Linked DNA regions of Homo sapiens: region 1 is linked to region 2. The links come from fine-mapping of genetic effects on gene expression. Tissue or cell type: prefrontal cortex. Region 2 holds a variant in brackets; the other region holds the start of a gene. All regions are shown on one strand. Distances are between the middles of the regions.

Evidence for each region. PIP is the estimated chance that this variant, and not a neighbour inherited with it, causes the effect.
Region 1: TMEM9 starts here. The variant in region 2 is fine-mapped to the expression of TMEM9 in prefrontal cortex (CommonMind, PIP 0.95).

What each region holds. Positions count from the first base shown.
Region 1 is chr1:201,150,911-201,159,012 of GRCh38, forward strand. TMEM9 (transmembrane protein 9) reads right to left here and starts at 3,564. Exons shown (of 5, transcript NM_001288565.2): 1 at 2,948-3,564; 2 at 851-942. The coding sequence starts at 3,013. RefSeq lists an enhancer at 2,801-2,950 and a silencer at 3,361-3,640.
Region 2 is chr1:201,129,087-201,137,188 of GRCh38, forward strand. TMEM9 (transmembrane protein 9) reads right to left here. Exons shown (of 5, transcript NM_001288565.2): 5 at 5,686-6,729. The coding sequence ends at 6,577. Among named protein-coding and RNA genes, the nearest start is that of ASCL5, 6.0 kb to the left of the region's middle. RefSeq lists a silencer at 5,461-5,667. The variant T/C (reference allele first, on the strand shown) is at 4,851.

The DNA.
Region 1 (8,102 bases), 22 kb after region 2:
ATCTGTGCTCGGGGCCCTCCAAGAACGGAGCTTCCTGGCTCCCAAAACTGCCTAGATTAGAAATGCTCCCTCAACTCATGCTTAAGTCGGTTTCCCTGAAGCTTTTATCCTTGGCCCCAACTCTACACCAAGAAACCCCACTGAACATAACTGATCCACACCAGTACCTGCTCCCACATGTCCCACCTCCCATAACATGCCAGCTTTCAATCAATCATCGTGTGTCCCCAAGTCCTCTCCTCTTTAGGCTTTCCTTGCTTCCTTAAACCATTCCTTCCAGGACAATGTGCTAAAACTTCCCTTCACCGCACTAGTCTCCTTTCTCTGAATGAATTCTGGGTTATTCTTCTCTTTTTAAAAGTGAGGTACCCAGAAATGAATTCAACACTCTAAATTATTTCTTTGGGCCTCTGTCTCTGCTATTATAAAATGGGAGCAAAATCCATCCCACCTACTTTACAAGGATGCTATAAGACTGGCACAGAATAACACATGTAACACAGCTTTGCAAAAGCATTAGGTATCCTACAGCATGTGGTCAGAATACCTACCTTTGCCAACTTCTCTACTACTATTCTGTATGCATCACTAAAGACCAATATTCAAAGCAAAACAACAAAATCCACTCCTCTAGCCAGGGACCACTCAGCTGGAATTCAGACACCTGGATCCTGTTTCCACAGACAGTTGACAACTATGAAATTGGTTCTGTGACATGAATAATTACTCCTTTGAAAGGCTCTCCATAGGAATGGGAGAGCATGCTTATCCTCCAGGGTCCAAGAACTCTAGTAAACACCCATAACTTCAACTGGGTATAGCAGCCAGGGGCCTGCGTGTAATGCCTTACCAGTCCTTCTGGGATACATTCTGGTTGTAAATGTGCCCACTGATGTTTCTATAAGGTGGACAGATGCATTTGCACCGGATATCTTCAGAACTCTGGAAAAGAAAGCACATGTCAAGTATGCAGAGACCCTGCCTGGGGTTCAGGGGGTTCAGGCTCTAGCAAGGTTGTCAACTTTCTGTTCCCCATCCTGTTAGGTGAACCATATCTATGCTCTTGAGCTTTCTCCATCCCCAAGTTCAAATCCAGCAAGGACTGCCACTGTAGGAAGCAAGCTGCAGCACCGGGTCCTAAAGATAGAAAAATGTCCAGATGGCAAATGAGACTCACAGAAAGTTGTCTAGGCCTGCCAGTCCCAAAGCAGGTACTTAGAGGAATGCGGGGAGAGGGATGAGGGGAAATGGGTGTGTGTGTGTGTGTGTGTGTGTGTCCTCTACCCCAGACCCCACACTTGTGTGTGCACCTCTGTCCAGTGGACTTGGCAGCCACCCTCTTCCCCACATTCCTTCTCCAACTTCTTAGGTAGGATTGGGGAAACATAAAGGGCGAGGGTGAATAAGAAAAAGTGGATCATTTCTGTGGGAATACTCAAGCAACCCCTTTGAAAGTTCTTCCCTTCTGGAATGAGTAAGAGATATCACCATAAATGTCTTTACTAATTAGGATTTCTGAGGAGAGAATGGAAACAAACTCTCAGCCTTAACCTTACTTCAAAGTCTGGATGATCTTTAGTTCCATAGATCTACCCAAACAGCTCCACAGGAATGTAGCAATAAAGAATGGAAGTTATCTCAGGAGTCCCAGAACTTAGGTGGGTCACCCTTAATAATGGAAACTTCAAACTGTATAGGACTTTACACTTACAGGGCATTTTTACATTGTCATGTAATTTGATTCTCCCTAAGCAGAGTAATAGATACAACTGCTACTACAGGTGGTAGTACTAGCACCCCTAAAACAAAAATTCGAAATGCTCCCAATCTAAAACTTGTTAAGCACAGACATGACCACAAAGATGATGTTAACATTGCAGAAAAGCACCTACAGACATGGTAACAATGAGTGACGGGCTTCTTGAAAGACTATAGCAGAGCGCATTCATAACAGAACAAGAAATCGTGTCAGTCTATAAAATCAAAGAGACTTCTAAGACAAAAGCTTGTTAATGAATCAGGTGACTGGCAAAAACATTTTTAAAAGCCATCTGGCAGAATGCCTCCTCATCTCTAGAGGACCCACTTTCTGGTCCCTCTACTGCTTCAGATACTACTTCTCACCTAAAAAAATACTGTGCACAGTAACCTTTAATCAAAACACAGCATCACAGCAGGAGACAGAAAGCCTTATGTTGCTGTGTCTAACAGCTGATACAGGTATTCTGGTGATGCTACTGTGCTTAGTTACCCTGAACACATCATTTATTTTCACTGTGTTAATAGTACATCATATTTTTTTACCGTTAAGAACTTATGTGTAACGTAAGAAAATATTTATCGGTAGCATATAAATTCATTGTCAGGAATGGTGGTGATGCCAACCAACCAGACTATCCACATGGGTGCCTGAGATAGTGACGCCTTTGCTTTCTGATGGTTCAGTGTAGATAAACTTTGTTTCATGCACACAATTATTGAAAATATTGTATAAAATTACCTTCGGGCTATGTATATACAGCATATATGAAACATAAACGAACTTCAGGTTTAGACTTAGGTCCCCTCCCCAAGATAGCTCATTTTTTATGTGCAAATACTCCCAAATCCAAAAATATCTGAAACAAAACATACTTTGGTCCAAAGCAAAGGAAGGTATGGAGAACTTAGATAACTTCTCCAAACTTCCTTGCTGGAAGTCCACCACTGATCTGTCTGATCAGAGTGAGCCAGTGCTCTGTGCCCCACCCTTCCTCACTCCTCACCCGCACTATCCTTAGGGAGGCCAGCAGCCTTGAACCTGAAGGAAGACCACTAAAAGAAGTATGGCCCATAGGTGAGTGAGAGGCAGGCTTAAGGAGCAGCTGGCTACCTCTGAGTCAGCCCTGTAGACAGGGTGGCCGTGCACTGTGGTCGTGACCAGGTGCTGCAGGCTCACCTCCCTCACCTTGTTGGCTTCAGCTGGGGGCACCAGCAAACACCCGACCACAGCCACCAAAGATAAGAGCTTCATGCTTATCAGGCTTGCTGGGCCAGCAAAGCCGGACACCTGGAAAAAGAGATACGGAGTCGGAGAAGGGGAAGGTGGCCACACCGCAGCCAGCACGCTAGGCCCTTAACCATCCGGCCAAGTGGGAATGGGGTTGGGGGCTGGGCTCCAGGATTCCAAGGCCTGCTAAACCTGGTCGCCAAACCCTGCTTCCCTCCCGCCCAACTCTCCGGCTCTCCGCCAGCCACCTGGTGAGCCCGGCAGAGGGGTCCTCGAGGGGACACCGCTGCCAGGGGCCTCCAGTTCCTTCTCAAGGCCCGGCTCTGACCCGCGCATCACGTCCCACCGCCCTCCGCCATCTCCGCCTCTGCCCGCCCCGCAGCTCCTCCCCGCTCGGGCCCGACGGGAACTTTTGGGTGCGAGTCTGGGACCCCTGCTCCGACGGCGAAGGCCGGTGCCCACCACGCCCAGAGGTCTTAAGCCGGACTGGGACCCCCAATAGCCCCGCGACCCCCGTCCCCTCCCCCAATGCCGCGTCCACGAACCTACAAGCCCGCTGCAGCCGCAAAAGACCCAGTTGTCCCCGCCCTCTCCTAGCTTCTATTGGTTGCCAGAGCAGCCCCTTAACCCGACCGCGCTGTCGCCATGGCAACAAGACCCGCCTTCACCTGGGCGGGGAGACTCTTGCGCAAGGGAGAGGCGGGCATTTCTCAAACCCGACCAAACCAGAAAAGGGAACGTCAGCCTTCCAAACTCCTGGGGAAGGGTCTTGCCTTTGTGTGGCCTGAGAACTCCCACTGCGGTGCTTCTCCCTTCCTTGTATTATAAAACTCAGCTTGTTTCATCTTGCTGTTTTAGAAAGAAAGCGCTTTATACACTGTAAGCTAGTAACGTCAACAAAAACGATACGAGATTGAAGGGCTTTGTCCTCATTCAAAATCTGGAAATGTTATTTAGGGATCCACGTCTTTGCTGCAGAAGACTTTCTGCGCGGCAACGTCTCTACCCCTACACACACCTCTGAGAAGGAGAAATCTAGGGTTGGCGATGGGTGGTGTGGGCTGGGCCTGTGAAGAGTGTGCACAACAGCGTCCTCAGCCTGATCCCCCTACCCCATGCTGGTGCTGGGCCTGGCAAAATGGGGCAAAGTGTGCATGGCCAGGATGCAGGGGTGAGGGTCCCTGGCTGCTATGTGGCAGATGTGAACTTCTTGCCAGCTGTGAAGGAAAGGGGAGTCATATGAATTCAGGGCACCAGACCCGGAGTGAGGACACCGGGGCTTTGGCCCTGGCGCTCCCCCTAAGCAGCTGTGTTAGCCTGGAAAAGATACCTCCCTTCTCTGGGCCTCAGCTTCCCTTACTTCCCTTATCTGTAAAATGATTCGGTTGGATTCTAAGATCCCCTTCAGCTTTGATATGTTGGGATTCCTTAGGGGTGGGTGGGAGGGGTATCAATATGGCCCAAACTTGAGGTTGGTGGCTGGATTAGCATAGGGGCTGGGTCCAGGTGGAATCAAGCCCCTCGCAGGCCCTGTGAACTGAGGTGGGCACTTATCTGGAGGCCACTGAGTTTGTGTTCCTCTCTCCTATGCTTATGTCTTATTCCTCTTTATATCCTTGCCACCTGGCAGAGTGACCTGTGTTTGGTAGGTGCTCAGGAAGTGTTTGCTAAACTGAATTCTATAGAATTAAATTAAATCTAGTTGGCAGGGGGCAGGGGCAGGAGGCCTGCAGTGTGATGCAAAGGTCAGGGGCTTTGGAGCTAGAGTGACCAGGGCAGGAATCCTGGTTCCTCCCTTCCTAGTTGTGTGAATTTGGGTGGTTTCCTTTAGGACACCGCCTTTGGATCTTTGGAAGTCTTTGGAATCCTTTCAGAAGTCTCGGTTTCCATGCCCATAAAATGGGATTAATATTACCAAATTTTCAAGGTGGTTGTAGGGATATAATGAGTTTACATATGCAAAGCACCTAGAACAGCATCTGACACAAAGAGGGAGGCTCTATAAATGGCAATGTTAGCTCATTGTGGAGGTCAGAATGGCTGCTTTGGTGAGCAAGCTCAGGCAGAGACAGAATGCCTACCTCGTGGGGGCAGAAGGGATAGTTCAAGTACTGGAAAAAGACACTTCTTCCCCCCATATACGTTCCATATGAAGGTGGGACTTTCATGGGGACAAAAGCATGGGGCTGAGTCTGTCACCTCCAATGGATGACCCTCTGACACACAACACTAAAGATACCCAATGCTGAGCTCACCATCTTCCTCATCAAACAGAAGGGAGGCCTTCCACTGTCATTCTGCATTTCTGCAGGTCCTAGATTGTGGCATCAAACTATCTTTGACTCCTCTCTCATATTTCCACATCTTGTCTATCCAGGTGTCCCCAGGAGGTAGCTATCATCACCCTGCCTGTATCTTTCCTCGGCTAGCATTCTGCTCCCTGAAATGCACTCCCTTCCTGTGTGCTCCTAGGTCCATCCTGTCTTCCTCCAATTCTGTTTTCAGCACATCGCTCATTGCTCAATCCCTGGTAGCAAGCACCCTGTTGCATCCAATTCAGACCCCTCCACTTGGCAACCAAGCCAAGTGGTTACCATTTCTGCACTTCCCCACCCCATCTCATCACTGGTTACTCCCCCCACCGGCTGTCCCTATATCTGACTTTGCTCATTGCAGTCCTCCATAGGACATTATCACCCCCAGCACTGCCAGTCGTTATCTTTCATCTTATTCAAATCTTTGCCCAAGCATTTGCCTTGCAGAAGCTTTTCCCAAATAGTCCTACCTGACCCAGGGCACCTCATTCCCATACATCCTCCATGTGCCCTGTGTTTATGAGCCATGCCAGTGAAGTGAGTCTGAACCTATTCATTAAATTTAATTCCATAAACATGTGCCAAGCACTATCTGTGAGCCAAACTCCAGGGCTCACAGATGCTAGGTACCCCAGGGATACAACAGACAAATCACATGCAACTCTGCTTTCAAGTAATGCACAACCTAATAGCAGACCAATCACATGGTCAGAATGTAACATAGAAAGTGATGTGTTGTAGAAGTGAAGCAGCCTTGTTGTCTGTGGTGACACTTGAGGTTTGTTGTCTCCTGGCCATGAAGATCAAGGAGGTAGACACACAAAGAGTGAGGTTAAGAGTGGAAATTTAATAGGTGAAAGAAAGACAATAGCTCTCTGCTACAGAGAGGGGTCCTGGAAAAATGAGTTGCCAATTTAAGGTGAAATGCAGGGGGTTTTATAGATGAGCTAGTGGGGAGGCAGTATCTCATCTATACAGGGCATCTCAAAAAAAGTTAGCACCAGGTGTGCCATCTGCATAGGGCACAAATCTCTGGCAGCTCCCAGCCCAATCTTTATTATGCAGGTGGTTTCTCTGCCTGAGCTTCTCCATGTTGCCCAGTTCTTTCTTACTGTACATGTGCTAACAAAAAAGGGAAGGTGGAGTCCCATGGTGAACATGCCTGGCCCCCCGGTAGCCCTTTTCTATGAGTGCAGCTGCCAGCATTCCTCCGTGCAAGCTTCCAGCTTCCTTATATATGTTTGCAGCCCAATCTTTGAGGCTGCTCTGTGTTAGAAAAGAAATGATTTCTAGGGCTGCTTCTTATTAGAAGGGAAGTTCTGCCAAGGACTTTTTTGTCCTTGCTATCTGCCTAAATAATTTCTATCTCCCGTATCAGAAATGCTTTTTCCCTTCAAAAATTTTTTGAGCACTGTGCTAGGTGCTGGGGATATCTCAGTAAACAAGACAAACCCTGTCCCTGTTCCCACAGAACTTGAAGTTTATTGCAAGAAAACCACAAATCAACAAGCAATGACAATTCAGGGTGGTAAGAGCTGTGCTGGGGGAAGGCTGCAGAGGCACTTGGGAAACCTAGACCAAGGGCCAGGGGAGCCCAGAATGGTGGAGAGGGGGCTTTGAGGGCAGTGAGGGCTACTTGGGCTGGGCCAGAGTGGTGGGCAGAACAATGTCGCACCCCCAAATGTCCACATCCTAATCCCTGGAACTTGTGAATACTGTCTTACACAGTAAAAGGCACTTTGCAAATATAAATTAAGGCCCTTGGTTGGGGAGAGTGGCTTGGATTATTCAGGTGGGCCCAATCTAATTAGATGGCTCCTTAACAGAGGAACCTTTTCTGGCTGTGGTTAGAGAAGGAGATGGACATGGAAGTAGGGTCAGAGAGATGCTATGCTGCTGGCTTCAAAGATGCAGGCAGGGGGCCACCAGGCAAGGACTGTGGGTGCTGCAGAAGCTGGTCAAGGCCAGCCAATGCATTCTTCCCTAGAGCTTCTAGAAGGAATGCAGCCCTGTAGACACCCTGATTTTAGTTCAAGAGAACACCTCCGTCAGACTTATGGCCTACAGAGCTGTCAGATAATACATTCGTGTTGTTTGAAGCCACCAGGTTTATGGTAATTTGTGACAGCAGCCATGGGAAACAAATACTGCCAGGAAGGGTGGGCAAAATTTGAGGCACAATTCAAGAGCAGGGTGATGGTGAGGAGGGCATTCTGGTGGGGGGTGGGGGCGGGGGCAGGGGCAGTGTAGGGAGAGCAAAGAGATGGGACTGGGGAAGTTCAGGGAGAGACATGTAGAGAAAGAGTCAACAGTTCAGTTTGTCTTGATCCCAGGACAAGCGAATGGGAAAGGAAGGCAGGGAGCTCAGTGACATCAGAGTCAGAATGTGAGCCAGGAGGGAGCCGGGAGCCCCTGGCTCGGGGCTCAGTGAGAGGGTGGAGACCAGGTAACATCAGCAGTGCACTCTCCCCAGCAGAGGAGGCCTAAGGAAGCTCTGGAGCCTTCCACTGCTTCCTCTCAGGACTTAGCCTTCATCCTGCCTCCAAGTTTGGAGCTCTAGAACTCAGGCCAAAACCCATACCCTCTAGTTCATACCTGCTTTTATCCAACAACCCTAAAATCAGTTTGACTTTATGAGGCGAGGTCTTGGCATCCGTGCCACAGCTGTGGGTCTGGGTTCTTCCTCACTCCCTGTCCCTACCGTTGGTGCTCCTGGATAGGGGATGAGTGCTGTCATCACTCCCAAATGGTGTCTACTCTCCCTGGCATCAACTATATGCCCCTGCTTTTCCTCTAAT
Region 2 (8,102 bases):
CCCGACTCCCAGCCTGGAGCCTTGGCCTCCGTGTCCACCTGGAGGCAGGAATCAGAGGAGCCCCCAAACCTTCAAGAGCTCAGGCGCCCTCAGAGCCAGCACTGCCTGCAGCCTTGGCTCCATGCTCAGTTCCACGCCTCAGGGCAGGGGAGCCGGAGGAGAAGTCGCCCCACCTGGAAGTGTGGAGTTGGACCTCAACAAGGGTGGGATCTAGCTGAGGGGTCAGGGTTTTCTGGAGCCTAAAGCGCCCCTGGTAACACTGAGTAGGAAGTCCCTGTTGAATCTGCAGAACCTTGACTTGATGGCTGGAGGTTATGTGGTGATAGTAATAATAGTGACGTGACCAAGAACAGCCGACACTTGCTGAGCGCTTACACTGCAGAACTCTTCTAAGTGCTTTATACACATTCACAATGCACTCCCTCCGACAACCCAACACAGTCAGTAGTTGTAGCCTCATTTTGCAGTGAGGAAACAGAGCATATAGAGTTTGAATATTTACTCTAAGCTGCCTACCTAGTAAGTGGCAGTTAGGATTTATGCCCAGGGTACTGGGCTCAGTGTTCGTGCTCTTAGCCACGCCACTTAATTTACTCGGTGGAAGATTGGTCATTTAGGGAGCTTTAGGCCCCAGCACCTCATTTGTTGAGGATTTACTACAGGCTAGGCCCTGAGGCCTGGTATTATTAGAGATGAGGAAACCGGCTCAAAAGGGGTTCAGGCATTGCCAAGGGGCAGAGCTGGGTTGAGAACCCAGGTGGCTTCCGGCTTTCGGACCACACTCTGTCCACGGCACCTACTGACTCCCTGCAGCCACACAGGCACTGCCTGTGCAGTGGGAAACACATGCTCCAGTGTTAGACAGTAAATGTTGGCTTGGGGCATCCCCCCTCTACCGCTTCCATCACTTCTTCAAGCTCAGCTCCCGCCTCATCCCCTAGGGCAGGGCCTGAGCTGTGGGAGCTGGTGGGGAGATGAGGCAGCTCCTACCAAGGACACAGAGCCTCATGGGGCAGCCTGGGATTCACTGCCTGCCTGGTACTCAAGACCCCACACCCACTTAGGTGTGCACACATCTGGAGGATCTTTCCAATTCCCTCACTTCCAAGACTCCTGCCAATTGGTTCTGAGGCTAAAGGCCAGAGGAGCAGACATGGCCTTGAGGCCCTACAGGTCTCAATAAAGAACTCACGCCTTAGGAAATGGGGAGCCCCTGATGGCTCTGAAGGAGGGAAGTGACCTGGTCTGATTAAAAGCATACTCTCTGGCACTCCTGACAAGAACCGCAGTATCTGGTGAGAAATGGGGAAGACTGGGACAGTGGTAACAGGGGCTGAGGGGAGGGGACAGATTTGAGGACTATTTGGAGGTAAAGTTGGTGGGACGTTGTGAGTGATTGTACAAGAGAAGAATCAAGAATTGATGACCTTCAGGTTTCTGGCCTGAACAACTTGGTGGGTGGTGGTACCACCAGTTAAGAATATAAAAGAAGCCACCAGGCGCGGTGGCTCACAGCTGTAATCCCGGCACTTTGGGAGGCTGAGGCAGGCGGATCACTTGAGATCAGGAGTTCAAGACCAGCCTGGCCAACATGGTGAGACCCTGTCTCTACTAAAAATACAAAAATTAGCCAGGTGTGGTGGCACGTGCCTGTAGTCCCAGTTACTCCGGAGGCTAAGGCAGGGAATCACTTGAACCTGGGAGGTGGAGGTTGCAGTGAACCAAGATCGTGTCATTGCACTCCAGCCTGGGCAACAGAGCCAGACTCTGTCTCAAAAAATATATATATAACATATATTATTTTATATTATATATAATGTATATTATAAATATTATATATAACATCTATATTATTTTATAATATATAATTGGCTTATTTTATATATAAATATATATTACACATGTATATATTATATTATATAATCATGTATACATATATTATATATTTACATATAATTACATAATTTTATATATTAAATATATATTAAACATATGTACTATATATAATAAAATTATAATTTATATATTGTATCTATATATAATTGTATATAGATACAATATATAAATTGTATATAGATACAATATATAAATATATATTATATATAAAATAAGCCAATTTCAGGACAAAGATGAGTTTAATCTTGGTCTTGGGGTGCTCAGGGGCACAGTCCAACTATGCAGCTTGGGGGCTGGTTAGGGCTCAGCTCAGGGGCTGGTTAGGGCCGGGCTAGAGATAGAGATGAATAAACGCCATGAAACTGCAAAACAGAATAAACTTCCAAAGAGAGTACTTAGAAATTAAATTTTAGATAGAGCCAAGTAGGCTGAGCATGGAAGCCTGGGAAACCAACATTCATGGGGACAGGAAGGGACAGTCAGAAAGGCTCAAGAGGTCAGGTCCCAGAAGCCAAGTGAAGAGTGTTATGGAGGGAGGATCAACACCACCAAATATAGCAGAGAGGGCCAGAAGGACAAGAACCAAAGACACCCTCTGGGCCTGGCGCTCCCAGAGCCAGCTGTGACCTTGCTGAGCGCAGTTTCAGAGGAGCGTGGAGGGCAAGGTCAGTTGGCAGGGGGTGAATGACCGAGTGCACAGAGACAGGGAGGAGACTCCACTGTAGTCAGGGGTGGACCTGGAGCCCCTGGAAGGTTCTCAGGACAAAGACTTGAGCATGTTACCAGGCTGAGGAGAAGTGCCAGTAAATAGGGTAAGGTTGGAGAAATGATGGCGGTCCCAGGCAGTATTGGGCAGGGGGGATTGGAGAAATGGAGGTCCCAGACAGTATTGGGGGTTGGAGAAATGATGGAAATACCATGCAGTATGGGGTGGGCGGTTGGCTTTGAACAGGAACACACTATCCCCAAGGCTGTAGCAAAGGCAGTCAGGATGAGTATGAATGAAGAATGATTTAACAATGGGGCTGAGTTAAGAAATCACTCCATTTTCTTGAAGTCATAAGCAAGATTTTCTAGGGAAGGGAGACGGGGAGACAGGAAGGTTGTCTAGTGGCCTCAAGAGTGAGCCTCATGGGAGGATTATTGGCCCTCATGGGGGAAGGGAGGGGGTGGAGGCCATGCACCTGCCAGGGCACCCTCAGCCTCTGTGGCAGCACTGGGCTGCCCAGGGAGGAGCAGGGAAGTCAGACTGGGTGGGATTGGGGTTTTGCTGGCAGATGTGTAACAATGGATGCCAGGAAACGAGAGGAGGAGGAGGACCAAGTCGGGCTAGGTGAGAAATGAAGGAAAGGCCACGAGGAAGCAGGCTGGCCTCTCCATCAGCCTCCCTGTGAGCCACACGAGGGATGAGTGCTGGTCTCTAATCGTGGAGACCAATTCTTAAGGCTCAGGTTCCCAGGGCCAACCCCAACCAGTTGTTTTTCCAGGTGGGACCAATCTATTACAGAACAGCATGGTTGGTGGGTTTGAGGGAAGACAGGATTCTGAACACAACAGCACCAAGTTCTGTTCCTTTTTTTTTTTTGGAGACGGAGTCTTGCTCTGTTGCCAGGCTGGAGCGCAGTGGCACGATCTCAGCTCACTGCAAGCTCCACCTCCCTGGTTTAAGCGAGCCTCCTGCCCCAGCCTCCCGAGTAGCTGGGACTACAGGCAGGCGCCACCACACCCAGCTAATTTCTGTATCTTTTGTAGACAGGGTTTCGCCATGTTAGCCAGGATGGTCTCGATCTCTTGACCTCGTGATGCCGCCCGCCTTGGCCTCCCAAAGTGCTGAGATTACAGGCGTGAGCCACCATGCCCAGCCAAGTTCTGTTCCTTTTACATCATACGAGACAGGGTGAAGAACGTCATTTCTGATCTTTTCCATCATTGGCTGCAGGGGTCTTCATCTCTGTTCCAAATACCAGCCAAGCAGTGTGCTCACCCCTTTGCTGGGGATCTCCGCCCCTTCATATTCACAGAAAGATGAAGTGTACTCTGCCATCGTCTGAAAATCGGGTTTTGTGTGTGTGAAGTTGAGACACAATGAGACGTTTGGTTACTAGTTGAATCCTTAGTAAAGTGAACAGTCACTCCTAATCTTTTATAAATGTTCATATACTGGACTTATAGTTCGGCTTATTTATAGTTAACAACAGTTGTCCCAAAAACCACCAAAGCCAGTTTGGATCATCTGCAGGACTTACCCAAGCCTCAGAGAAATATAGCACTCAATGTTTCCCCCAGGGCATGTGGTTTTACAGGGGAGACCTGGCAATGTTAGGCACCAATTTCTGGCCTGGTTATTCTTGCTAAGTTAATACACCCACCTGCCCACCTTTGGAAAGTGCTGCTTTTGTATGCCTCTTGAAATAAGAGCATCCCCATCCTGAAAGAATAAAATAGCCCACTGTAGCTTCCACAGCAGTACTTGACCCTGGTAGGCACTGAGCAGCTGTCTAGTAAATGACCCAGTAGAAATGTTGTCAGCACCAACTCCTCTGTCCCAGCCTTGCATTTGGGGGCACATCTATCGCTTGCTAGCCCTACCACAAACTTCCTAAGTGCACTTGCTCAGGACCCCACAATCCACTTGGTCCCCTCTCAGCTGTGTCCCTTGTTTCCAATGCCAACCAGAGTCTCTGCTCCTCCTGGGAGCCCCATCTGCAGGTCACCCCAGTCCCATCCCCTTTACGCTTCTGTCTTGGAACTTTGGCAAACTGTTGCAAACTGACCCCCCATCTCACGTCGTTCTCTTGCCTCCCACACCTCTCCAAGAACCCAGCATGGGGGCCCACACAAAGGTTTTTTTTTGTTTGTTTTGTTTTGTTTTGAGACGGAGTCTTGCTTTGTTCCCCAGGCTGGAGTGCAGTGGCGCGATCTCAGCTCACTGCAAGCTCCGCCTGCCGGGTTCA[T/C]GCCATTCTCCTGCCTCAGCCTCCCGAGTAGCTGGGACTACAGGTGCTCGCCACCATGCCCAGCAAATTTTTTGTATTTTTTTTAGTAGAGATGGGGTTTCACCGTGTTAGCCAGGATGGTCTTGATCTCCTGACCTCATGATCCGCCCGCCTCGGCCTCCCAATGTGCTGGGATTACAGGCGTGAGCCACCGCGCCCAGCCCACAAAGGTTCTTAATCCATGTTTATTTGGACAACCCTGATGACACCAGATCAGCTCAGTCCCTCTAGATGCCTTGCCTCTGCCTGGGTCTTGGACATGCCCTGCACCGCACATCCATACTGGAGCTGACGCAGTGCCGGGCTCCCCTGGATGTCCCTGTTGAAGCTGCTGGCATTTCCTTCTGTATGGGGCAGCTCGTTTTCTAGCTGCCCCCACCCACCCCTCTCCAAATACCTGTTGGTTTTCATTTGGGGATACTTACAGGTTTTGCAGGGAGCGCTATTTACTGTGTCTGTAGGATATTAGGATGAATCACGCACTGTTCAGTTTCAGAGGAACTGCCCATAAACATGAAGTAAAATCTCAGGATAACTCCCAAGGGCCAGTTCACCCTGTGCTCCTTGCCCCAGCCTACCCACCTCTTTCCTAATCAGGTGAGGAGGACTTCCAGCAAGCCGTGGCCTTGGCCTGATTGCACTGTGGCTGGCTCTGCCACGGCCGCCTGGACTTCCCAAGGCTCTGCCTGTCTGGACCTAGCAAAACGCAATGCTCTCTGTCCCCTCTGGGATACTACATTTACCAGGTCACTTGTGAAAAATTCCTAGTTCCCTAAATCTCTTAAAAACCAGAAAGTGAGAGAAATAAAACAATTTAATGATGGCTTCCTTGATTTACACACAACTCTAAGACAAGAGGACAAAATTTTCTCTCCATGCACTGGTACAACGAAGTTCAGGGACAAGAGGCAACCCAAGTACAGGGGCTGTGGTGTTCAGATCCACGCTCAGCCTCGAGTCTCATGTTCCAACCGACCGTCTGGCTCAGTGACTGTGGACACTGGGGAGAGGAGGGACTGCCCAGACCCCTCAAGTGCAGGTGAGGGGACCGGCAGCAGAGTATGCATGGGCACTCCATGCCCCAGTGCGAGAAGTGCACAGGGGACAGCGAACACCAGCTTCCAGTGCACCCTGAAGACCCAGTGGGCTCAGGGGGCCCAGCTCTCCCATCAGAGCTGTCCTCAGGGCTGGAGCTGGGGCTGGGGCTGAGGCGCTGGGGCTGGGAGGGAGGTGGTGATAAGAACCACTGCAGAAAGGAACACATGCTGAATGCTGGGCCATGCTTTCCTCCCAGACACTGAGTTCCTGAAGACCCAGCTTTATCTTCCAAGGGTAACAACATTCCCAAGACTCAGAGCTGGAAGGCGGCAAGAGTGGAGCCAGGAGAGACAGATCGCATCCACTCCTGAGGCCGCCTCGAATGTCTCCATTCCCTTCTGGCCTGCCTTCCCCCTCCCTTCAACCCCAAAGACCCAAGAAGACAACAGAGATCAGAGACCACATCCCTCTTCCCTAATCAAAATAGCCAAGTACAACATTTCTAAAGTTAGGGAGAAGGAGGAAAAATGCCACAGGCTTTTAAAGGGAAGACTGGAACCGAGGGAAGGGAGAAGTAGCCCCCTGCTTTGTCCAGCCTGGAAGCTGGCAGCCATGGTGTTGGGGCCTTGACCCAACCACACCAGCCCATCTAGCTGAGCATCTTGTGCCGATCGAAGACTGTCTTCCGCTGCTCCTGCACCTGCAGCTTCCACCGCTGCTGGGCACCTTCCACACGCTCCAGGACTGTGTTTGCTCGGGGTCCCCCGAGGGATGCAGCAGCTGCTGCCATAGAGCGAGCATCCTGTAGTGGGAAGAAAAAAAGAGAAGATCTGGCACGGTAAGCCAGAAGGGTCTTGGATCCTGAAAGTCTGACATGGAAAGAACGAACCCCAAAGCCTTACCTTCCCCAGACTGGGAGGCTGGGCCTCCCCAAGTGCTGCAGGCTGAGGACCTTGCCTTGTCATCTGCAGAGCTGAACACAGTGTGCCAGGTCTGCTGGAAGCCTTAGTGTCTGTAGCATCTGCAGGATGGGGCCCCTGCCCCTCCCTGGGGCCTGGGAAAGGAAGCACTCCAGGAAGAGTAGGTTCTGCTGGGGCTCCAGTTACTGCCACACAGCTAGCTCAAGGGAGGTTCCCAGCCTGAACCCACCCCTCACCATGCCCCATTCCACTATTTCTAACTCTCAAGAAGGATGCTAAGTATAGGCTTCAAGACCTCACTTAGGCAGAGGACTTGATGACATCTGTTGTTTCAGCAATGCACCGAGGTGCCCCCAGGGCTAGTACTAGGCTAGAGAACTCCCCTGCCCTCCACGCCATTGCCCAGGGGACAGGAAGAAGGCCCAGGGGCTAGGGTCTGGCTACCCTGAGATGGCAACACATCTGCTCCAGATGGGAGGGGGCCTACTGAGGAGTCTGCATAGATCCAGATCCATGGGATCTTAGTTTCCCTGGGAAAGAGGGATGTGACATCACTCAGGGAGTCTGACAGGGATGGAAATTCAGAGCCGCCCCAGCATTCCCTTTGCAGAGCCCTCTCTGGCCCATTCCCTCCTTTGATAGCTGAGGACAGCTCAGCTTCCTCCCTATCTGACTCTGCTGATCCCCTTCCCCTTTGCTTTCAGAACTGTTGCTGCCGTCAAAAGCATCCTCCCCTAATTACCACTTCTCTGCCTCTGAAGCTCCGGAGCCTCTGCATTTCCTGCAGGACCTGAACCTGATCTTTGGAGAGAATTAGAGCTGAGGGCCAGGCCCACACCCCCGTGGGGATTTCCTCCCTAGCTTTCCCTGCCTCTCATCTCCTGCCACACATCTCTTAAGGGATTAGTGCACTTCTCTAAGCCCAGAGCCGCCCAGTAAATGCAACTTTGCTTCTAATGCCCCAAGCTGGCACGGCTTCTGTCACCATGCAGCTGCTACGCTGGGGCGAAGGGGGGTGGTGAGGTGAGGGTAGGGTGGACAGAGAACAAGCTGGCAGTGAGGAGGCTGGGAGAGGGTTCATCATCATCCTCTCAGAGCTCTGAGGACTTCATCTTGTGAGTGCTCCTCTCTAAGCTGCGTTAGAGATGGACACTGCCTTCTGGGAGCCTCCCGCCCAGGTCCTGAGGAAGGCTTCCTGTGCCAGGCTAGGTGAGGCTCAGGCAACGCCTGAAAGGCACGTGTGGCCATGTCAGGC